Homo sapiens: one gene and its partners. The protein of the gene in region 3 interacts with the protein of the main gene of each other region in a pairwise test. Each region holds a gene or a part of one and is shown on either strand. Other genes may lie near its edges.

Region 1 (3,500 bases), on a different chromosome or scaffold from region 3:
GGCTTTGTGCTTTTAGCTGTTCCATGCAAGGAACCAATCAACCTGTGTGTTACTTTATGACCAGACCTCAGTATTTGTGCCAGAACCTCAATGGTCTCCTCTGTTTTCTTCCACATTTGGTCTCAGATTGATAGTGGTCACAATAAGGAAACAACCTGTATTTATTTTAGAAGGTAAAGTTTAAAAAAATTGATATATTAACTAAATCAAGTAACTTGACATCAGATAATGTGTTTTCTCATTATTTCTGGTTTTTTTTGTACTGCTCATCTTCTATTCATTATTCCTTCTCTAGATAAAATCTGTCAGTGATAAGAGTTTCAGATTGTACATTTCTAGATAATTTATTTCACTTCCATTTATTTTATGCCCAAAAGGTTATGAGATAATATTAATTTATGGTGAGTAGCTTGAACTTTGACTAGTTCCCTGAACCTTGTTGAAGGCATATGAACACAAAGTACACCCGTTTAGCCCATTATTTGGGGGAAAAAAATGTGTGCCCAAGTGTTTGGATGTTTTATTGTGTATTTCCAAGTAATCAAAAAAAAAGTTAACAAAGAAAAAAACGAAGATTTTCTGTGGTCAGGAATTTTGAAACTGCTTCTATCGATATGACTATCTTAAAAAATAAGATTTCATAATAATCCTAATCTCTAGTTCTGTTGGAGCCTTATTTGCTCATGTCTCCCTTTTTTCCTTTTTGGTTCTCTATCTTTGTGTTATTTGTTGAATGTCAAGCTTGCTTTACTAAGCCCAGTCTATATTACTTCATAGATCAGATGGGAATGTCCATCCAGTTTCCCAGAGTTGCCTTAATACTGTGTGTGTAATGAGATTTGCATTTGTATACCTCAATTTCTCATGGCCCTGCAGTAAAATCATAGCTTGATATACTGACCAGATTTCTGGCCAGTAATGACTGTTGTATTGTATTGTATTACAACAATGACTGTGGTACTGTATACCTAAAGCTCTGTCATGATTAAATACTCTGTAATAGACATGGTGCTAGGTGATTGGAGAATAGAAGCACAAAAATGCTTTACTTTAAAAACTGTTCTTTCTTTTTAAATTATTTTTAATTTTTTTATTTCAATAGGTTTTTGGGGAACAGGTGGTAGTTGATTACATTAATAAGTTCTTTAGTGGTGATTTCTGAGATTTTCGTGCATCCATCACCTGAGCAGTGTACACTGTACCCAATGTGTAGTCTTTTATCCCTCGTCCCCCTCCCATCCTTCCTCCCGAGTCCCCAAAGTCCATTGTATTATTCTTATGGCTTTGTGTCTTATAGCTTAGCTCCCACATACGAGTGAGAAAATACGATGCTTAGTTTTCCATTCCTGAGTTACTTCACTTAGAATATTGGTCTGCAATTCCATCCAGGTTGCTGTGAATGCCATTATTTTTTCCTTTTTATGGCTGAATAGTATTCCATGGTATATATATTTTCTTTTCTTTTTTTTTTTTTTGAGACCGAGTCTCGCTCTGTCACCCAGGCTGGAGTGCAGTGGCGTGATCTCGGCTCACTGCAACCTTCGCCCTCCGGGTTCACACCATTCTCCTGCCTCAGCCTCCCAAGTAGCTGGGACTACAGGCACCCGCCACTACACCGGCTAATTTTTTTTTGTATTTTTAGTAGAGACGGGGTTTCACTGTGTTAGCCAGGATGGTCTCGATCTCCTGACCTCGTGATCCGCCCGTCTTGGCCTCCCAAAGTGCTGGGATTACAGGTGTGAGCCACCATGCCCAGCTGATATATACATTTTCTTTATCCACTCATTGATTGATGGGCTTGGGCTGGTTCCACATTTTTACAATTGCGAAATGTGCTGCTATAAACATGAGTGTGCAAGTATCTTTTTCATATAATGACTTCTTTTCCTCTGGGTAGATAACTAGTAGTGGGATTGCTGGATCAAATGGTAGATCCACTTTTAGTTCTTTAAGGAATCTCCACACTGTTTTCCATAGTGGTTGTGCTAGTTTACATTCCCACCAACAGTGTAAAAGTGGAGAACTGTTCTTTCTAAAATTCTAACATACCTCTTAATTACAACTTTTGAAAAAGTGTTGATAAAATTATCCCAGAGTGAGGCTTGAGTTGAGCCAAATTCTTTCCCTTCTTAATTCTTTCCTCTTTGTTTTAGTACTATTATCTGCAGTTGCTTCAAAGAGCAACAACTTCATAGCATTTTGAAATCAAATGAAGGACATTTCTCTGCAGAGGTTATTTGTTATGTGAAAGTCTTCAGTATGTCTGTGGGATGTACAGTTAATTACTTGTTGGTGATTTCCTTGAGCATTAAAGTGATTTCTCATTTTTTTCCTTAGTACAAAATACCTCTTCATTTATCACAAAAATCTATACATTGAGATTGTCCAATAACTACATTGAATACTCTGAGCTAAATTTAGGCCATGAGCAAATATAAATTTAAAATAGTATTTGTCAATTAGAAGACATTCCGAGTATGCGTGTGTACGTGTGTGTGTGTGTGTGTGTGTGTGTGTGTGAATCTGTGTCTGTGTGTGAGCTACAGCTGTTGATATTTTGCTTTTTATCACCAGGTTCCAGTACAATGGTCAGATATGGTCACTTTGAAAGCCAGGATGACAAATTATGGATTACCTAGATATCGGTGGCTTACTCATGCTTGGAATTTTTTTCAGAGAGAGGTAAGTGCTACAATTTCTGAGGTAGAGAGAGTGAAGTAAGTGGTGCACCTTCAAACCAGATGTTTAAAGCTTTAGCTTTGGTAATTTCCTCTGTGCTGAAAAATTAAGCCTGTGATTCAGTAACCTCTGGTGCAATTATTTCTTGAAAAATATCTTAGGTAACTTCATGGCCTGCTTTTCTTCCCATGTATACCATTTCCCCTTTATTTCACATGGTTCACATATATTTAAGAACATCTGAAAAGCCATTTTGCTAAATTATTGTGAAGTTTTCTTTTTATGAGAGTTAACTTGATAAATATCCAAGTTCCAGACAAATAGATTTTTTCATGACTTTTAGAGCTCTCAATATTTTAAACATAATTTTAGTTTTAAAAAAAATGATTGTTCTCATTTGGGACTTTGAAGTCAGTATATCATTAATGGCATGATCTGTTCAGAAAGACCTTGGTTAAAATCATAGCTGTGCTGCTTGCTATTAAGTGAGCTTCTATAATTTACATAACTCCCTTAAGTCCTGGTTTTCTCACCTTTAAAATAGTGATAATAAAAATACCTCTCTCTTCAGGTTGTTAAGAAGATTAAATGATGCGATTTCATTTAGCCTATGGTTATTAACAATAACATTACAAAGTATAGGTGCGTTTAGCATTTCTTACCTAACCGCCATGTAGCACTGCACCCAACCATCTTCTCAAGTGGGGACTGTATTCAGATGTTTAAAATTTGGTGACTTGGAGTTAACCATTGATCTTGCTTCAAACCAAGCTCTTCTTCCAAGCAGTTTCCTTGTGATTGAAGTGACATTCCCAGATGGA
Region 2 (3,074 bases), on a different chromosome or scaffold from region 3:
AGGCTCCTGCTTGGGGCTGGTGGCTCCTGGGAGGCCCCCTTCTCTTCAGGGACTTTTTTGTTTCACGTCCTTGTGTCCAGGCCCGGAGGAGGAGAGGGAGGGAAGGACCAAAGGGAGGTCAGGTCAAGCCCGGGGAAAGTGCCCCCTGTTGTCTTCCTCCAGCAGGACTGAGGCCCAGGGAAGAATAGTCAGCGGGGTCTGGGGTGTTGAGGGACAGTACCCCGCAAGATGCCATTAGCTGCGGTTTGGGGGCTGTCGGGCGACTGTGTGTGTGTTGGGAGCAACCACAGAAAAGGCTGATGGCCGGGAGCAGGGGTCGCTGACATGGAACTGCCTGAGACTTCTGGCTGGATTGTTTCCCCTCCCTCAAGTCCTCCTTCCAGGCCTGACGGACTCAGCAGGGTTTTTAAGGACAAAGCTGTCGGCGGCTCCCCACCTGTCTGACTGGCTGGTTCCTCTGTCTGCCCTGGGCTCTTTCACTGCTCTGGTGGGCCTGCGTGTTCCTGGACCCTCACGTGGGGCCTGCGCCCGGGGCCGCCTCTGGCGGGGTGCTGCTGGGGCTTTCTCCTTCAGAGGCAGGAGGTGTGGCTGGGTCCTCAAGGGCCCCTGGGGTAGGATGCGAGGATGGGGTTGGGGAAGCTTCATCACAGGGACTGGGCACAGAACTGGCAGCAGGTGCAGGGGTCTGGACGTTAGTGTCTGCCTGTGGCTGGGCCACAGAATCTGACTGTGGCTGGGCCATGAGGTTCAGCTGTGGCTGGGCTGTGGGATCCGACTGTGGCTGGGCCGTAGGGTTCAGCTGTGGCTGAGCTGTGGGATCCGATCGTGGCTGGAGTGTGGGGTTCACCTGAGGCTGGGCCACAGGATCCATCTGTGACTGGGCCTCTGCCATCGGCTCTGGCAGAGTTGGACCCTCAGAATCTAGCTGGGTCTGTGGCTCAGTGGGCGTGAAGCTGCCCGGCCGCTCCTCGCAGAGAGCTGCCGCGAAGGACGAGAGCACGGAGCGCAGCAGGGTCCGGAGGTCGGCACTGGCCATGAGGCAGAGGAAGGGGCTGAGGCAGCTGTTGAGTAGGATCAGGTAGTCGGAGTAGACCAGGGCCTCCCAGAGCAGGTAGCCAGAGTAGACGTCCCACAGGAAGGCCAGGTAGAGCAGCTGGGCCAGCTGGTAGGGCAGCCTCAGGACCACATAGGCTGACAGAATGGTCCTGGCCACACGGGCGAAGCCCCGGCAGGCTGCGGGCTGCTGTTGGCGGTGGCAGGTGCGACAGGCTGTGGCCTGGGTGAGCACGTGGCAGACGAGCAGCAGGAGGAAAGGCAGGAAGCCCCCCAGGACCTCCAGCATCCTCAGCGACAGCTCCTCGCTGTCCCAGAAGTCCAGGCAGATGACCAGGTCGTACCACCAGACGGCAGCCTCGGGGAAGACCAGCCAGGGCACGCTGAAGAGTGTGGCCAGCACCCAGACACCGGCGCAGACCCAGAGGGGCAGGCGGACTGGGCGGTGCCCAGGGTACCAGTGTGGGCACAGCGCCAGCAGGCAGCGGTCGAGGCTGAGGGCGGCCAGCAGGAAGAGGCCGGAGGAGTAGGACACGCCCCATAGGAAGTAGTAGAAGCGGCAGGCAGCTGTCCCCAGCGGCCAGTGTCCCCCATGCCGGATCTCTAGGATCTGGAAGGCCGCTGCTGCCAGGAACAAGAAGTCAGAGAGGGCCAGGCTGAGCAGGAGCAGCGCCAGACGCGTGCCAGCTCCATGCCGGGCCTGGGAGCCGGCCAGCCACGCCATCAACCCATTGGCTGGCAGCCCAAGGAGCAGCAGGGCCACCAGGAAGACCGTGTCCCAGCCACCTTGGGGGTAGGAGTCCTCATCATCAAGCTCTGTGCGGGGCCTGTGGCCAGTGGCACCCAGGTCAGCTTCCATGGTAGTGTCCATTTGGGGTCCCCAGAGTCCTGCTGGACACGGAGTGGGTGCCTGGTGAATCAATGATGGTGTGAATGACCGAGTATGGGAGAGACGGTGCTGTGCATCTCCAGGCAAGTCACCATCCCTCCCTGCGCCATTGTCATCACCTTTTGAGTAATTATCCTATGCCAAGGACTTGAAGTGGATGACCTCATGGAGTCCTCATACAATCTACTTTACAGGCGAGGACAGGAAGGTTCAGAGAATCAGTGAAGGTAGGAAGGGAGGTGCCAGGGCTCAACCCAGACTTTTCTTTTCTTTTCTTTTTTTTTTTTTGAGAGACAGGGCCTTGCTCTATTGCCCAGGATGAGTGCAGTGGCACAGTCCCTGCAGCTTCCACCTCCTGGGTTCCAGCGACCCTCCCATCTCAGCCTCCCTAGTAGCTGGGACTACAGGTGTGCACCCACTACTTTTTAAATTTTTAGTAGAAACAAGGTCTCACTGTGTTGCCCAGGCTGGTCTTGAACTCGTGAGCTCAAGTGATCCTCCTACCTTGGCCTCCTGAAATGTTGAGATTACAGGCATGAGACACTGTCCAGACAGACTTAATCTTCTGCCATGTAGAATCCCAATGGGTCCGGATAGACTAACCCGGAGGCTTTCAAACATTGTTAAAGGTATGGAATTTTGTCTGTAAGTAAAGTATTCTAAGGCCGGGCACGGTGGCTCACACCTGTAATCCCAGCACTTTGGGAGGATCACCTGAGGTTGGGAGTTCGAGACCAGCCTGACCAACATGGAGAAACCCCATCTCTACTAAAAATACAAAATTGGCTGGCCGTGGTGGCGCATGCCTGTAATCCCAGCTACTCAGGAGAATCGCTTGAACCCGGGAGGCAGAGGTTGTGGTGAGCCAAGATCGTGCCATCGCACTCCAGCCTGAGTAACAAGAGCAAAACTCTGTCTCAAAAAAAAAAAAAAAAAAAGTATTCTAGTGGAACTCCTATATGGACTAAAAGGGGGTGCTCAAATTAAGGGAGGGAAGAGTACCCCTACCCCCCAGGGTTCCAGGGAACACAGTTTGAAGACCGTTTGGTCCGCTCATCACAAGGCCCCTTTATGCCTGCTCCTCTGGGGTTCGAGTGTTTAGGATTCCAAGAAGGGAGGGCTCTGGTTCCCA
Region 3 (3,500 bases):
AGACGGGGTTTGGCCATGCTGGCCAGGCTGGTCTCAATCTCCTGACCTCAGGTGATCCACTCGCCTTGGCCTCCCAAAGTGCTGGGGTTACAGGCATAAGTCACCACGCCTGGCCAGAATATGTGTTTTGGTTCAAGACAACCAAAATAGTAGTAGGCAGCTAAGGCGGCTTTCCTTGCAACAAAACCAGATAAAAAGACTCCTGGATAAAGCGCCCTTCACCCCTCCCTGCCTCTTGCTTTCCCATCAGCCTACTTGCCACGTTCCCCTGCAGCTACAGGGCAGAAGTGGCCAACACAGAGATCCACACTCTCTCGAAAAGTCAGCCTCCAGATTCTTTCTCCTCCTTCCCCTCCTCCTCCATGTCAGTAAGCACTGAGAGCTGTTACCTACACCCAACTTGTGGCAGGGGCGTTGGCAGCACAAGCTCCGTATTTTGCTCGTTTCCAGTGTTTCACTGGAAAAAAGTATGGACCATGACTCCAGATGACGAGTCTTCAGAAAACACCATTCCTGAGAGACTGTGTTTAATATCCTCTCCCAGTTTGAAAAGGAGTTTGTTTTCTTACATCTTTTTTTAATTGCCATGAGCTGGACTTGTAAATATTGTAAGTGGTTGAGTAATACTCATCTGGTAAACTGACCAAAGGAAATGGACATTTTTTTCCACTCTTGTAACCCTGGCATCCCATGCCTGCCCCTGAAAGGGACTCTTGAGTATTGGAAGGGAAAATCTGCCTCGCCAGGTGCCAGCGGGCCCAGGGCAGGAGCTGAGTGAAGCGCAGAGAAACGATCCCGAAGTCAGGAGCCGCAGCAGGTGTTCTGTGCTAGGGTTGGGGGCAGAGAGCATTCATTGTTTAAGAAGTTGGCAGCCTCCCAGAAGTTCAACTGTCTTTCCTTGTTCTGAAATGTCAAACATTTCCTTAGCTGGGGGAATGGATGAGTAGACCCCCCTGAGGTTTAAGAACTATTCTGAGGCAGAAGAAGGAAGTTCTGCTTTTCACACGTGACCGAGTACGATGTGAGGTCCCATGTCCCTCCGGCAGGGGGGTCGGCTGCGCCCCTGAAACTGGAGCCACCTTCCTACATCAGAAGAGTTGCCAGCTCTTCCCTGCCTCTGCCTTTAGGAACCGTCAGACCCTCTGTGGTTATGTGGGTAGTGGGGGAGTGTGTGTGTCTTTTTAATGGTGCCTTTTAGTGATACTTACTGAAATATTTGTAGATGACCTATGTCTGGAATTTGTTTCAAAATAATATGCAGGAGACAGGGAGCAGGTGAGGGTTTGCATAAAGCCAGACAGGCCATGAATGGATCCTTGCGAAAGCTGACGGATGGGCTCATCACTGTTCTGCGTGCCCTTCGGTCTGCTTTTGTATATGTTTAAAATTTTCCATCATAAAACGTTAAGGAAGGGAAGGAGGGAGGGAGAAAGAGAAGAGGATGAAAAGAGAAGAAACTCTTGATCCCGGTGTTTCAACCCCAGTGAGTCTGAGCCTCTCTCCCCGAGGGACCCCCACACTGTCTCGAATCAGGATGCCTCCACTCAAGCTCCACTGGTGTAGACAAGGGTGAGCGTGTGGGCAGAGGGGTCCTACCCACCTGGATTCCAATTCTAGTTCTTCCTCTTACCCGCCAGAGGGCCTTAGGTAGGAGAGTTCACCTTCCAGAACCCCAGCTTCCTCAGATATAAAACAGAGATGAGGGTTACTTACTGTGCAGAATTAAACCAAGTAATACACCCATAGCACTTAGTGCCAAACCTGGCACGCATGACTGTTTCATGAACGGTGTGGCTCAGCTTTCCCTGGCTTCAAAAAGATCCCTGCTTACTCATTCCGAAACATCCTTCAGAGGAGAGAAACTCCATTCAGAAAGGTGCCAGAGCTGGGATCACATTCGAAGAAAGCCAAACTTCTTAAAGAAAAAGGATTGCCGTGCTAAGGTAGATAAACACCTTCTCTTTGACCCAAAGAATCCAAAAGACAGCAGTTGGCTTTTGCTTATCGCTGTCACCTGCCATCTTAAAACGACCTCCTCAGTTGACCCTCAGTATATACCAGTTTACTTAAGCCTGTTTAAAGTCTCCCCCTGTTTGCTCTGAAAGGGTTTAAAATATAAAAGCCTTATTTGTCATGGCTCCTAAAATCCTCCTTTTCATCTTGGGACAAGAACCCAGTTTATCACATCTTATCAGCTTACTGTCCAAGATGTCCATCACTCAAGTTCATTTTCATTTATTTATTTATTTATTTATTTATTTATATATTTATTTATTTATTTATTTATTTATTTTGAGATGGAGTCTTGCTCTGTTGCCCAGGCTGGAGTGCAGTGGCACAATCTCAGTTCACCACAACCTCCGCCTCCCGAGTTCAAGTGATTCTCCTGCCTCAGCCTCCCAAGTAGCTGGGACTACAAGCGTGCACCACCATGCCCGGTTAATTTTTGTATTTTTAGTAGAGACGTGGTTTCTCTGTGTTGGCCAGGCTGGTCTCAAACTCCTGACCTCAGATGATCCGCCCGCCTTGGCCTCCCAAAGTGCTGGGATTACAGGCGTGAGCCACAGCGCCTGGCCCATTTTCATTTTTTATAGATAATGTGTGCCCTGTCATGCCTTTCCTGGGGCACAGTTTGTCTAATTCACAGCATCTGTGGTAGAAAAATTAGCAGCTTAGCCACCACTGTATTAATAATAGTTCCACTAGACCCACCCACCATGCGCTAAAACTGTACTATGAAAGGTCTCTGCAGCTCTTCTGTGGAAGAGCATTCTTCTATCTTGTCTCTGTAGTATTGTGGGTTGGCATTGGCCACTTTTTGAATTTTCTTACTCATTGGCCTTCTTGCCACATTTTCTCAGCTTCTCCCTCTCTGCTGACCACTCCTTCTATGCCTCTCTTGACTCTTCTTATCCCTTCCAAAAATTCAATACATTTACTCATTTGTTTTATACACACACACACACATGCACACACGTGCGCGTGTGTGTGTGCCTCTTTCCTGTGCCAGGCTCTGTTCTAGGTACGGGGGATATGGCGGTGAACGAGAACCCACAGTCCCTGGTGTAGATGTTCATGTGTCCAGGAGAGACAGACAGTAACTGAGTACCTAAATAATGATTCAAGGCCGGGCGCGGTGGCTCACGCCTGTAATCCCAGCACTTTGGGAGGCCCAGGAGGGCAAATCACTTGAGGTCAGGAGTTCGAGACCAGCCTGGCCAACATGGTGAAACCCTGTCTCTACTAAAAATACAAAAATTAGCCGGGCATAGTGGTGGGCACCTGTAATCCCCGCTACTTGGGAGGCTAAAGCAGGAGAATTGCTTGAACCCAGGAGGCGGAGGCTGCAGTGAGCCAAGATCACGTCACCGCACTCTAGCCTGGGCGCGAGACTCCATCTCAAAAAAAAAAAAGATTTAATAAGAGTTACCATGGAAACTTAGGGGGGCAAAGAGGGCACAGGTAACTGGAGGATGACAAAGAGTTCTTTGGGAAAATGC
Region 4 (4,043 bases), on a different chromosome or scaffold from region 3:
TCCTCAGAGCATACTGACGTCTCCAGCTCTAATCCATTACCACATAGACCACACTAGCCTTTATCTTCTCATTCCAACAGTGAGAAACTTAGCTCCCACTATCAGCCATCCATCTACTTCGTTGTTCAATTTCGGTATGATGTGTGGTAGTTATATTTGTCTTCTAGGGCTGCTATAATAAATGATCACAAACTTAGTGGCTTAAAACAGAAATTATTCTTTTCACAGTTCTAGAAACTAGAATTCCAAAATCAAGAGGTAAAAAATATGGAAGAAAAAGAAAACAGAATAGAGCATAAGACAGATGTAGGACATGGTCAAAAGTTCTAGCAGAATATAGTTGGAGTCCCAGAAAAGGAAGAGAGAGAAAATAGAACAGAAGCAGTAATTGAAAAAATAGTTGACAAGGACACTACCAATCTGATGTAAAACATCACTCTATGGTTTCAAGAAAGTCAGCAACCCCAAGTAGGGCAAACAGAAAACTACACCAGGCCGGGCAACAGTGGCTCACGCCTGTAATCCCAGCATTGTGGGAGGCCAAGTCGGGCAGATCACTTGAGTTCAGGAGTTCGAGACCAGCCTGGCCAACATGGTGAAACCCAGTCTCTACTAAAAATACAAAAATTAGCCAGGCATGGTGGCACATGCCTATAATCCTAGCTACTCAGGAGGCTGAGGCAGGAGAATCGCTTGAACCCAGGAGGCAGAGGCTGCAGTAAGCCAAGATCATGCCATTGCACTCCAGCCTAGGTGACAGAGTGAGACTCTGTCTCAAAAAAAAAAAAAAAAAAAAGGCAGGTGCAGTGGCTCACGCCTGTAATCCCAGCACTTTGGGAGTCAGAGGCGGGCACATCACAAGGTCAAGAGATCGAGACCATCCTGGCCAACATGGTGAAACCCCTTCTCTACTAAAAATATAAAAATTAGCTGGGCATGGTGGCGTGTGCCTGTAGTCCCAGCTACTCTGGAGGCTGAGGCAGGAGAATTGCTTGAACCCTGGAGGCAGGGGTTGCAGTGAGCTGAGATCGCACTACTACACTCCAGCCTGGGTGACAGAGTGAGACTCTGTCTCAAAAGAAAGAAAACCACACCTAAGCACACCATAGTCAAACTGAAAATCAAAGATGACAAGAAAATCTTAAAAGCAATCAAAGTAAAAAAGACATATTATAGAATGACATGTAATGACACTTTTTAGTTGCTGACAGAAAAAACCTGCCAATTTAGAAATCTGATTCCGGCCAAGTTGGTGTAAAAGAGATCAGTTTATCCTCCCTGAAACAAACAAGCAACCTAGACAAAATACATGACATAATGGATTTCTGGCATTGGACATCAGGCAGCACAGGAATTGATTTCTGAGAGAGGGTAAACAAACAAGATGAGCCCTACAATTACCCAGTTTACTGGCTGTAGAGAGTTTCCAGACTGCAGTGCAGGAAGGGGGAATCCACGTGGAACTTAGTGGTCTCCCTGAGTTGCGGAGATAGGAGTTGGAAGTCTGAGGAGGCCATGGTGCTAGAGTTCACAGCTCTCTCCTGGAAAGGAGAGCTGCACAGAGAGTGAACTCTAAAGATCTGTAGTACCTTTCATGTCTTCATCGGAGCTTCGAGTATTGCACGCATGTTAGGAAGCTAGAATAGAACCCCTTGAAAGGATTAGAGGGAATAATCCACACACAGAGGTGGGGATAGTTTTTTCTTACTAGTCATAGTAATTTCCGTAACATTGGGAAGAGTACTCAGAAGGGCTTTGGCTTGGTAGTGAGGAAAATTAGTCCTAGACTAAAAGCTGCTCCAATCCCACCTAACGCAGCAGAAGAAAAGCTTAATAATATTGATATGAATTTAAAAATAAGATAAAATTGACAATGTCTGACATCAGTGAGGACCAATTTTCCTCACTAAGTGGGTCGAGCCGTTCCTGCCACGAGCTTCTAGTGCATGTTCTATTCTGAAAAAGATGAGAATTAACCAGCTACAGTGCAAGATGTCATGAAATGAGCTGTGTTCAGAATCTAGGCACGTGTGACTTTGACATATCTATGAGGTTTAAAAAAGAAATATCAGGAATACAAGTAGAATATGTGCCATATGAAGAAATCATAGCTTATTTATGTAACATTTAGTATCCTCATTAGCTGTTTGACTGGTTTTAGAATTCAGCATATAATCCTTGGCTCTTTGGAAATAAAATTGTATAAATACTAATATTTATTAGATCTGAATGGTAGGTACATGGGTGTTAAACTAGTCTCTGTGCTTTTGTGTGTTTTTTTTAATTAAACTAGTGATTTTAATTAAACTAGTGATTTATGACTGCCTAGGAATGTGGCCATTCATATCATACCTTTTCATCCATTTCTTAGGTTCCCAGTCTAAGTGGGTGACTTTCCAAGATAGAGGCAGATCATTTCTCCGTCAAGTATAGAGAGACACATCTGCTCCTCCTAGAGTGTCCATAAGTATGAAGAAAATAGAAATAACTTAGAAGAGGCTGCAAAAACATTAAAGTTTGAAATTTTTTTGGGTGGGGAATAACATTTTGATGGCAATTTAATAGTGATTTTCATGTGTGTCTTGATAATGTCAAAGGTAATAACCAGGTGTTTTGGCAGGGCAAGTTTTGGGGATCAGGGAAACACTCATATTTGCTAAGTACCTATTATGCCATAAACTGTACTGAAAGCTTTTTATCTGTTACCTCATTTTAATCTGTAGTCAATTTATGTGGTAGACCTCATTTGCCTGTTATAGATGAGGACCCAGGGTTCTCAGGAAAAAGCAATGTCTTCAATCTCACTAATAGTACTGCCAGAATAAACTATTATAAAGTATATCATACATGATTTAGATTATAAGAAGAAACATTTACTAATGGTGAAAATTCTGAGCATTGTGGTTGCTTACCTAGAAAAATTTAGTAACTTCTCTTACTTCTCTGAAAATTTTAAGCTTATTTTTTATGATGATTTAAGAATGGTCCTGCCCACAGGCAGAGGAGATAGACTGCATGAGCTCTCAAAGTTTTTTCTAAGTCTTATGATACTATAAGTTGGTATTTTTATGATCTCAAATGTGTTCAATTTATTTCCCTTTCTTAAGGTGGATAATATTAATGCAGCTGTGATGGATTTGAAAAAAAAGAAGATCCGCAGTCTAAGTGAAGAGGTCAAAATAGGAGCACATGGAAAACCAGTGATTTTTCTCCATCCTAAAGACTGTGGTGGAGTCCTTGTGGAACTGGAGCAAGCTTGATTTATATTTGCAAGCAACTAAATTAATTGACCTGAAAAAGCCTATCAAATACTATCAAAATGTACTATGACATTGAGTCCTTCACTGCTTCCATCATGTAAAAGTTCACAGTTAAAGACTGAATTACAGAAAGATTAAAATATATACATATATAAATACATAAATATGTATATTATTTAGATTAACAAACATATTTGTTAATTTGAATTTGAAGAAAATCTTGATTACTAATTACTTAGGGAACATTATTAAAATCATATAGAAATAAATTATTCCTCTTCTACAATGGGGTAATTGAATGTAATGTGTTAGCTGTGTACAAGGGTATGTGTGTGATGGATGGATACACAAAGGAGTTATGAAAGTATGACAATTTTGTGGCTAATATTTGGGGCAAAAGTTTCTAAGAATGTTTTGGAATACTTTTTTAGAGCAAGCTGTGTAAGATTAGGGAATTTTAATCTCAGAAGTTTTGCTCTTCAAAAACAACTCGTGGTCACAGTTTCCTCAGGGTCCAGGTGTTTTGGGTGCTAGGGCTAGATGTATAGGAAGTTTTGTGGAAAACCTGGTGCGTCATCTAGTAGGCATGTAGATGTCTGAATTATTTTTTTAAATCAGTAGTAATTTGTAGAGTTAGGTATCACGTAGATGCTAGAACACCACAACAGGTCCTAGGGGAATATACAAAATGAATAGAAATCCACTGCCAAGATGCTTATGGTTCATTTGGGGAGAGTACTGCTTGAAATAAATGTAAACACTTACAAAACAACATCTGAATGA
Region 5 (2,585 bases), on a different chromosome or scaffold from region 3:
ACTCAAAAACAGCTTTGTAAAGAAAACATTCGTGCAGAATAACATGTTTTCATTAGGTGAATTCAAGTAAGGATACTGTGAAAGTTTCAGCAGCCATAGCCTAGTCTGGCCAACATGTAGACAAGTGTTTGTAAAGTAGTAATATCCGTATCTTCATTATATATTTTTTCCCAATTTTGGAGTTGAGTTATTGTTTCTAGATCCTCTTTTGAATATCTTCTTCAATGGAAAACTGATGGACCTATCTTTATACACATCCTTACAGGAAGCGGTTTGACAGGGCTGAAGCAGAGTACATTGCAGCAAAGCTAGATATACAGCGCAAGACTGAGATAAAAGAGCAACTCACTGAACACCTTTGTACGATCATACAGCAAAATGAGCTCCGAAAGGCCAAGAAGTTGGAGGAGTTGATGCAACAACTAGATGTAGAAGCCGATGAAGAGACTTTGGAGCTTGAGGTGGAGGTCGAGAGATTGCTACACGAACAAGAAGTAGAATCAAGGAGACCAGTGGTTCGTTTAGAGAGGCCATTTCAGCCTGCGGAGGAGAGTGTGACATTAGAATTTGCTAAAGAGAACAGAAAGTGTCAAGAACAAGCTGTTTCCCCAAAGGTAGATGACCAGTGTGGAAATTCCAGTAGCATCCCCTTTCTTAGTCCAAACTGCCCAAATCAAGAAGGTAATGACATTTCAGCTGCTTTGGCCACATGAAGTTCTGGTATTCTTTTGAGCTAATATGGTATTGAGTAAAGTATACTTTTTGCAGTAGATCATGCCCTGACCTCCAATAAAAACCTCTTTAAAACAATGCTGATTTTTGAATTCATGATTAGTTTTAGTAAATTAATAGGTTTGGCCATTCTAAAATCCAAAATTATGATAACTGTATTTCTAGGGGTATGTTTCACCTTGATTTTGGCCCGGTTCTTTCAGTGTTCCGTTTACCCTTTTTACTGAAAGTAAGTGACTTAAAAGGATGGAAGAAAAACTACATGGTTGGAGTGTTTTTAGATCAGATAAATATAGAAAAGTAAAATGGAAAATGATACTCAATACCTAGTTAAACTCATTTCACTTCTCCTGGGAGACGTATTAAGACTGGAAGTCCTATTTTATTTAATCAGTATCAGTAAAAAGACAAAAATTACAGTGTGAACAAGAGAAAAACAGGAATAGAAGAAAAAAGTTGCAGGTTGAATTATCTATCTGGATATTACTAGAGTTGTAAAACACAACTTGGAAACTGGAATTTATGTGAAGAACCAAACAACTTAAACCAGCATCACTTTTGTCTTCAATTTGCCTTCCAGTGATTTTAGTTTACAACCTGCGTTTTGTTATTTGAAACACACACACTTATATATAAACACATGTAATTTTACTATTTTATTGTCTTTCCTTTAATCGATGAATTGATTAAATTTAGACAATTAAAACATTTCTAAAGTGAGACTGAAAATAATATAGAAAATCTCATTGCTACTTGTGATTATCAAAAAAAGTATGTATTTTCTTTCTAAAGTTATCTATAAATATGTTTTTGATATGTTGGACATGAATTACCCTGTCATGAAGCGTTTAAATTGTTAAAATGCTGATTTTCTTATTAGTTTGTTAATTGCCTGTTACTAGTACTTGACCAATACATTGTGCTATATGTAAATGTGTAAATAAATATTGTAATTTTCTCACAAAGTCTGTGAATATCACATTATGATTTATTTATCAGAAATTCCAAAAAGTAAAAATATTACCTTTGAGGACTTTTTTTTTTTAAAAAAAGAATTATTATCAGAGAACATAAGCACAAGTATAAGATTGTATCCATAAAAGTTTCTGAAAAACTTAGGGACATCCTGTTTTTAAATGGGTTTGTTTGAGGGTATTATCTTCTGGTAATATAGATGAGCTTTATATTTTTATATTATGTAATTTGAGTTGAAAGTATAACATTTTACTACTGACTTCTCTAAACAGAAGCATTTCTATAGATAGTTGTGCTTTTATTTATGAAATACATAAAAGCCAACAGTTTCATTGTCTAACACACTTCTTTTTCTAAGGAATAAACAAGTCTGATGTACTTATAGTGTCTTTCATTTACCTTAAAAAAATTTCAAACAGTTTAGTATGTATTAAGCATTGTGTGACAATAATGCATCTTGGATCTCCTTGTGGTACATACAGTTACTTACTTTTATTAAGCCTCTGTTAAGGAAAATTCATTATCAGTGAGGTTTTATAATATTGGTTAAATGCAGGCATGTGCAATCTTAATTCTCAGTGTAAACCCTTCAAAGATATATGAAGAAATGAGAACCGTGAAAAAAATATAAGTTAGATGAGACCTCAGAGATAATCTAATTTAATCTTTTATTTTTTTGAGATGGAGTCTCACTCTGCCACCCAGGTTGGAGTGCAGTGGCACGATCTCGGCTCACCGCAACTTCCACCTCCCAGGTTCAAGCAATTCTTCTGCCTCAGCCTCCCAAGTAACTGGGATTACAGGTGCCTGCCACCACACCTGGCTAATTTTTCTATTTTTAGTAGAGACGAGGCTTCACCATGTTGGCGAGGCTGGTC
Region 6 (2,314 bases), on a different chromosome or scaffold from region 3:
ACCTGATGGATGAAAGTGAAGATGTTTCGTATGGCAAATTCAGTAATGCTACCTCAGTATATAGTTCTGTATACGTATTTGGACCAAAGTTATTAGATAAACCAAAAATATTTCATGAAGCATCTTCTGCTTCAGAGTCCATATCCAGCCACCCAGCTATGAATGTATTTAGAAAGATATTTGGTGGAGGTGGAATTTCTACCAGAGGTCAAGAGGATTTGTAGGGATAGCCTCAAGAATGCCAGATGAGTGTGTCAGAAAGCCTGCTCCTACCTCTCGCCAGCTGCGTGACTTTAGGCAAGTCACTTAAGTACCTTATTTCAGTTTCCTCACCTGTAAATTGAACAGGGGTTGAATGGAATAAAAAGCCCTTTGCAACTCTAAAAGTCAATTAACACACTTACTAAGGTGTTTTAAGTGACCAGGAAGGAAATCAGAACTAACCTGGATTGTTAGCGAAGAAAACAGAAGCCACCAACAAGCCTATCTGTCCTTTGCAATTTTGCTCCAAGAGCCTATTAGCAATTTGAATTCTGAGCCTCTAAGAAAACTTATGCTCAGGTGGCCCCTCCAAGTGTTGGTGCCAGAGCACTCTTGCCTTGTATCCTCACCTACGCCTTCCATGAACTCATAGCAGTGCTGTGGCACTGCAGGGGTGTTTTATGCATTCACGTTAGGAGCATGAGCAGAACTGCATATGCCAGCACCACATGGGCAGCAGAGACTCCCCACTGCCAGATGGATGATAATGGAGCTGCACTGGGAACAACCAGGACTGTCCCAGTCAACATGATACAGATGAACATCCTGCCTTAAGTCACTAGCTCTCTCCAAAGCCAGATAAAGTGGGTTTCTTCACTTACATCTCTCTAATCTTGGCTGCCTTATTCAACCTACAGACTCTATGTCAGTGCTGGATTTTCTCCCCTTGCCCTTTAGGTAAGCAGAGTAGGCAGGAGGAGATTTGAAAGCGTGTCATACATATTGCCTTGAAAGAAAGGACATTCAGGTGTCCCTTCGGGGTTCTGTAACAATTAGGCTATGTGTGCTGAGAGAGGGAGCGGAGTCATTTGCTGATGTGCTGCTACCTGTAACTCAAATGCCTCATAGGAATACCAGCGGACAAACACATAGAGGAAAAGTTGAATCTTTCCTATATTGGACAATCTTCCTTCAGTCTTGTTTCTGCATCAAAAAGTCTGGGACACAGAGTGCTACAGGATGCCTGGGCTAAGGACTGTAACAGAAAAATATCAACATCAGAGCCTGGCACAGTGGCTCACACCGGTAATCCCAGCACTTTGGGAGGCCGAGGCGGGTGGATCACTTCAGGTCAGGAGTTCGAGACCATCCTGGCCAACATGGTGAAACCCCCATCTCTACTAAAAATACAAAAATTAGCCGGGCACGGTGGCACATGCCTGTAATCCCAGCTACCTGGGAGGCTGAGTCAGAAGAATCACTTGAAAACAGGAGGCTGAGGTTGCAATGAGCCAAGATTGCACCACTGCACTCCAACCTGGGCAACAGAGCGAGACCCCATCTTAAAGACCCTGTCTCAAAAAAGAGAGAAAAAGAAAAAGAAAAATATCAGGCATCACATGAAAGAGTATTCAGCTGTCGTTCTTGTGAAAAAGGAAAAGGACAAAATCAAATGCATTTTAACTGTGGTAACTAATTCACTGACTTGAAGTTTGCTTTGTTTGTTTTCTTTGGTGCGTAGAGAAGAATACTTCATACTAACTCCTGATCATCTTACAGCAGACATAACAACAGAGTGTTAGAGACTGGAATAAATATGAATTTGGCTGAAATGTGCCCTGAAAGTTGTATTTCATTTTTTTAAATGTTTAACAATTACACTGTATCAATAGTATATATACGTGTACATATATATAATTCTTAATAACTGCAGTGTATCTAGCATATATATAATGGTGGCTGGTACATGTTTAATAGCAGACTCTGGAGGAGGAATCCTGACATACAGCATTTGCCAGCTCAATGTAAATGCTCATGCTCCCTCATGGTCAATTTCAATCTACCACTGGTTTAGTAACTAGGATGCAAAATTTCTAAAAATGTGATAATTGGTGATGGGCATGATGGCTCAGGCCTGTAATATCAGCACTTTAAGCAGCTGAGGTGGGAGGATCACTTGAGCCCAGGAGTTAGAGACCAGCCTGGGGCAACATGGCAAAACCCTGTCTCCACAAAAAAAATCAAAAAATTAGCTGGGTGTAGTGGCACATGCCTCAGGTCCCAGCTACATAGGAGGCTGAGGTGGAAGGATTGCTTGAGCCCAAAGAGGTCA
Region 7 (3,500 bases), on a different chromosome or scaffold from region 3:
TATGATTTTAAACATATGAAACTGTCCCCTCTTTATCTTCTCTACACTATTATATTCTCTTCATGACACATATCACCACCAACCATATGTTTGTGTGTTTATTTTCTGCAACCCCTTCAGTAGTACATGTGCTACAGTAGAGAAGGGACTTAATCTGTTTTATTCCCTGCTGTATCTCCAGTACCTAAAATAATATGGAGTAGGTACTCAAAAAAATTTGTTTTATGGATAAAAATGTTTGTGTAAATTATGGGAAACTGACATTTAAATATTATTTTTCTTTCTAGCTTGGATTAGAAGAACAAGAAAGACTCCACCTACTATGGAGGTAAGACTACACAAGGAGGATATCATTTAGGAGTATATATTCCCAAGGATATACGAAGCTTCAGAAAAACTATGATGTATTTTCTCAAAGTGTTGATTTTATTCCATCACAGAAAATAACTTAAAACATTTTATAATAAATTAATATATAAACCTATATTATTAATAAAATAATATATGATAAAATAAATGCTCATATTATGGAATATAACAAAATTTGTATAAATTTTAAAGTGAAATAATAAAAATTTAAAACAAAATTAAAACACTCTGTAGAAAGTCTGAACTTGGAGCAGTTTGCACCAGGTTATTTCCCCTGGGCCCTGGGGGTTCTCTGTGCCAATACTCAAGCTTTTGTGGAAAAGTTTGAGAAACACTGAATCTCTTTGTCTTGTCCAAATCATGCTCTTATGTTTCCCTTAATATTATGTATTTAAATCCATCAAGTATCCAAAGAAACTTTAAAATACAGAATTAGCAATTATTTTATAACAGTAATTATTAGTTGACTTTTTATTTAAAACTAAAAAATTTGTAGTCAGTGATAAACAATAAAAAAACATAGAAATGCTATGGTATATATGTTTTACAATATAATTTTTATATAGATTATTTTATAAAAATTATAATTTTAATTTTAAAAATATGTAAAGACCTCTAAAGTTATTTTATAAGAAGTAATTTCATAAAAGGAGAGTCTCTAAATGCATTAGTGTACTGCCTTGTTTACTTTTTGTCTAGAGGCATTCCCTTTCTTCTACTATTTAGGACTTCCCTCCTCTCTTCTGTTGCCTATTCTGTCACTACTACAAGCCCTGATGACAACATAAATGGGCTCCGGTACTCAATCCCCATTTGTTGGGAAGTGGAGTGCTCTAGAGCAGGATAATGATGATACCTCAACTGGCATGCTTATGTTTATTTGCTCCATACATTTGTCATATACTGAACCCATTAATGTTCATTCGGCCAGGGTCTGACTGAGTACATCTCTTGACCCATTTCTAGCTTTGTATGTTGCTTCTGCCTTGGCCTACTTTTCGCAGACCCTTCTTTCCAACATTGATAAAATTTGGAATAAAAGCTGTTTTGGGGGGAAAAAATAAAAGGCAATATGATCCAGGATTCAGAAGTATGCCCAGTAGTTTACAGTGAAGGATGGATTGAAGAGCCTTCTGATTCTCCTTCTCTTGGTCATAATAAGAGCTACTGTTATCATTTGCTTCATCCATCCTCAGAACTTTGAAAGCCTTATTCATAGAAACATTAATATGCAAAGTGATTAATGGAGGCAATTGCAATAGTTGGGCCTCAGGCACAACTTCTGTAAATTTTAGGTAATTTCAGCACCTCAAACAATCTCTAGCCAGAACACACCAAGTCCTTCCATCCCTGAGCTCACTCTTGTTAATTTTGATTATCCAAAATGAGCCCTCTTTTGTTGCCTCCCTTTAAGTGTACTATCAATCACATTGTTCTTTATGCTGCTTCGTACCCTCCCTAATACACACACACACACACACACACACTCTTTTCCTTCCTCTTGGCCCTTTCCATTGTGTTTCAGGAATTTCTGTTTCTTTGTTAGCAAATTACCATTCACCATTAATATTTTCCTGGAAACTTTCTCTACCACAGAACCTCAACTGAAATCCGTCTGTGCCTGCAAGATAGTGAGTTCCTTTTTTTCCTTGAAGTAAGTTGTGCTCGCTTTCCCACGCCCCACATAAAGAAAGTGAGTTCAACTGCTTCTTGCTTCCCCAAATAGTCTTTGTTTGTGGACCCAAGAGAGTGGAGGACCTTTGTAATCCATGTGTATTTCTCTGTACCTGACCATCATTTTTATGTTTGCCAACATCCAAGCCAGTCTACCTTACTGATGGTCGAGATTAGAACCTGGAATATGGTCTTCTCCTTTCAATGCTTTCCCAAATTTTAGCTTTCCAGTTCTTTGACTTCATCCATACTAGTATCCCTGCCTCAAGTGAACAACCACTTCATTAGGCACACTTTAGTTTTTATCAAACACAGTTCTTACCACTGTAACTTTTACACTCTTCAAATCCAAATTCTAGATACATCATATTAAGAGGAAAAAATTTTTCTTAATGTAAAGTAAAACATATATTTATAAACCGTAACAAAAAAATAGCTTATTTAGTTATTAAGCTGTGAAATTATAAGGCAAATTCCACCCAGGTCAAGAAACACAACTTTGCCATCTACTTCAGCCCCATATATCCCATCCTAATCACAACCTTCTCTCTCTTGACAAAAGAAAACCTTAAGCCAACTTTTATAGTAATCATTTCCTCTCATTTTAAATAGTTTTTTCACCTAAATGTACATTATAGTTTAGACTTGTCCATTTCGTAAAAACTTCGTATTTGTTTTAAATCTTTCAGTCTATCCTCTTCCATTTCTTTTACTTCCTTAGAAATTTATGTGTTAAAATACCCAGCCCAGTTGGCCTACAGAATTTGCCACAGTCTAGATTTTGCTGATCTTATGTTCCTGGTGCACTTCATCATGTTCCTCTGTCCACTGTTTTCCTTCCAAGTTGACAACTGGATCCAGAAACTAGATTTTTTTTCCAGATCTTTTAGTGAATACCCAACTCCAAATAAACTTTCTTTCATATCTCCTATATATTATTGCTAAAGGTTAGCCAGCAGCCATTAGAATGTCATTTACAACAGTATTAGAAAACATAGAATACTGTGGAATTTAGTGAGCAAAACATGTGCAAGATCTGTGTACTCAAAACTACAAAATGTTGGTAAGATACATTAAATAAGACCTAAATAAATGGGGAGAAGTATCTGTTCATGGATTGGAATGTACAATATTGCTAATGTATTCATTCTTCCCAAACTGATCCACAGTAGTTCTTATGCTTTTATTTTGCATCTGCATCACCTGAAAGACTTGTTAAAACACAGATTGCTGGACCCCAAGCTTAGAGTTTTTGATCCATTAGTTTTGAGGTAGGGCCTGAATATTTGCATTTATAACATGTTGCTGGATGATGCTGATGCTGATGGTTCATAGCCCATATTTTGTGAACCACTGATTTATAGATTTAATAAAATGAATATCCAGTTAAAACCATGTCAGACTTTTTTGATAGAAATCAACATGCTGATTTGAAAATATATTTGGAAATGTAAAAG

The links.
Region 1: the proteins of STX8 (region 3) and TSPAN12 interact in binary tests that used the Homo sapiens proteins (3 or more experiments, as listed by UniProt).
Region 2: the proteins of STX8 (region 3) and GPR152 interact in binary tests that used the Homo sapiens proteins (3 or more experiments, as listed by UniProt).
Region 4: the proteins of STX8 (region 3) and MCEE interact in binary tests that used the Homo sapiens proteins (3 or more experiments, as listed by UniProt).
Region 5: the proteins of STX8 (region 3) and GORAB interact in binary tests that used the Homo sapiens proteins (3 or more experiments, as listed by UniProt).
Region 6: the proteins of STX8 (region 3) and GPX8 interact in binary tests that used the Homo sapiens proteins (3 or more experiments, as listed by UniProt).
Region 7: the proteins of STX8 (region 3) and NDUFAF2 interact in binary tests that used the Homo sapiens proteins (3 or more experiments, as listed by UniProt).

The regions. Positions count from the first base shown.
Region 1 is NC_000007.14:120,809,645-120,813,144, reverse strand, and holds part of TSPAN12 (tetraspanin-12), read left to right. Parts: intron 1-2,574; coding exon 2,575-2,682; intron 2,683-3,500. UniProt on the Homo sapiens protein: Regulator of cell surface receptor signal transduction. Plays a central role in retinal vascularization by regulating norrin (NDP) signal transduction.
Region 2 is NC_000011.10:67,450,801-67,453,874, forward strand, and holds GPR152 (probable G-protein coupled receptor 152), read right to left. Parts: upstream 1,930-3,074; 5' UTR 1,925-1,929; coding exon 512-1,924; 3' UTR 501-511; downstream 1-500. UniProt on the Homo sapiens protein: Orphan receptor.
Region 3 is NC_000017.11:9,254,321-9,257,820, reverse strand, and holds part of STX8 (syntaxin-8), read left to right. Parts: intron 1-3,500. UniProt on the Homo sapiens protein: Vesicle trafficking protein that functions in the early secretory pathway, possibly by mediating retrograde transport from cis-Golgi membranes to the ER.
Region 4 is NC_000002.12:71,109,187-71,113,229, reverse strand, and holds the end of MCEE (methylmalonyl-CoA epimerase, mitochondrial precursor), read left to right. Parts: intron 1-2,371; coding exon of another isoform or gene 2,372-2,392; exon of another isoform or gene 2,393-2,467; intron 2,468-3,107; coding exon 3,108-3,260; 3' UTR 3,261-3,543; downstream 3,544-4,043. UniProt on the Homo sapiens protein: Methylmalonyl-CoA epimerase involved in propionyl-CoA metabolism.
Region 5 is NC_000001.11:170,551,750-170,554,334, forward strand, and holds the end of GORAB (RAB6-interacting golgin), read left to right. Parts: intron 1-265; coding exon 266-713; 3' UTR 714-2,085; downstream 2,086-2,585.
Region 6 is NC_000005.10:55,165,484-55,167,797, forward strand, and holds the end of GPX8 (probable glutathione peroxidase 8), read left to right. Parts: 3' UTR 1-1,814; downstream 1,815-2,314.
Region 7 is NC_000005.10:61,098,705-61,102,204, forward strand, and holds part of NDUFAF2 (NADH dehydrogenase [ubiquinone] 1 alpha subcomplex assembly factor 2), read left to right. Parts: intron 1-287; coding exon 288-328; intron 329-3,500. UniProt on the Homo sapiens protein: Acts as a molecular chaperone for mitochondrial complex I assembly. Complex I functions in the transfer of electrons from NADH to the respiratory chain. The immediate electron acceptor for the enzyme is believed to be ubiquinone.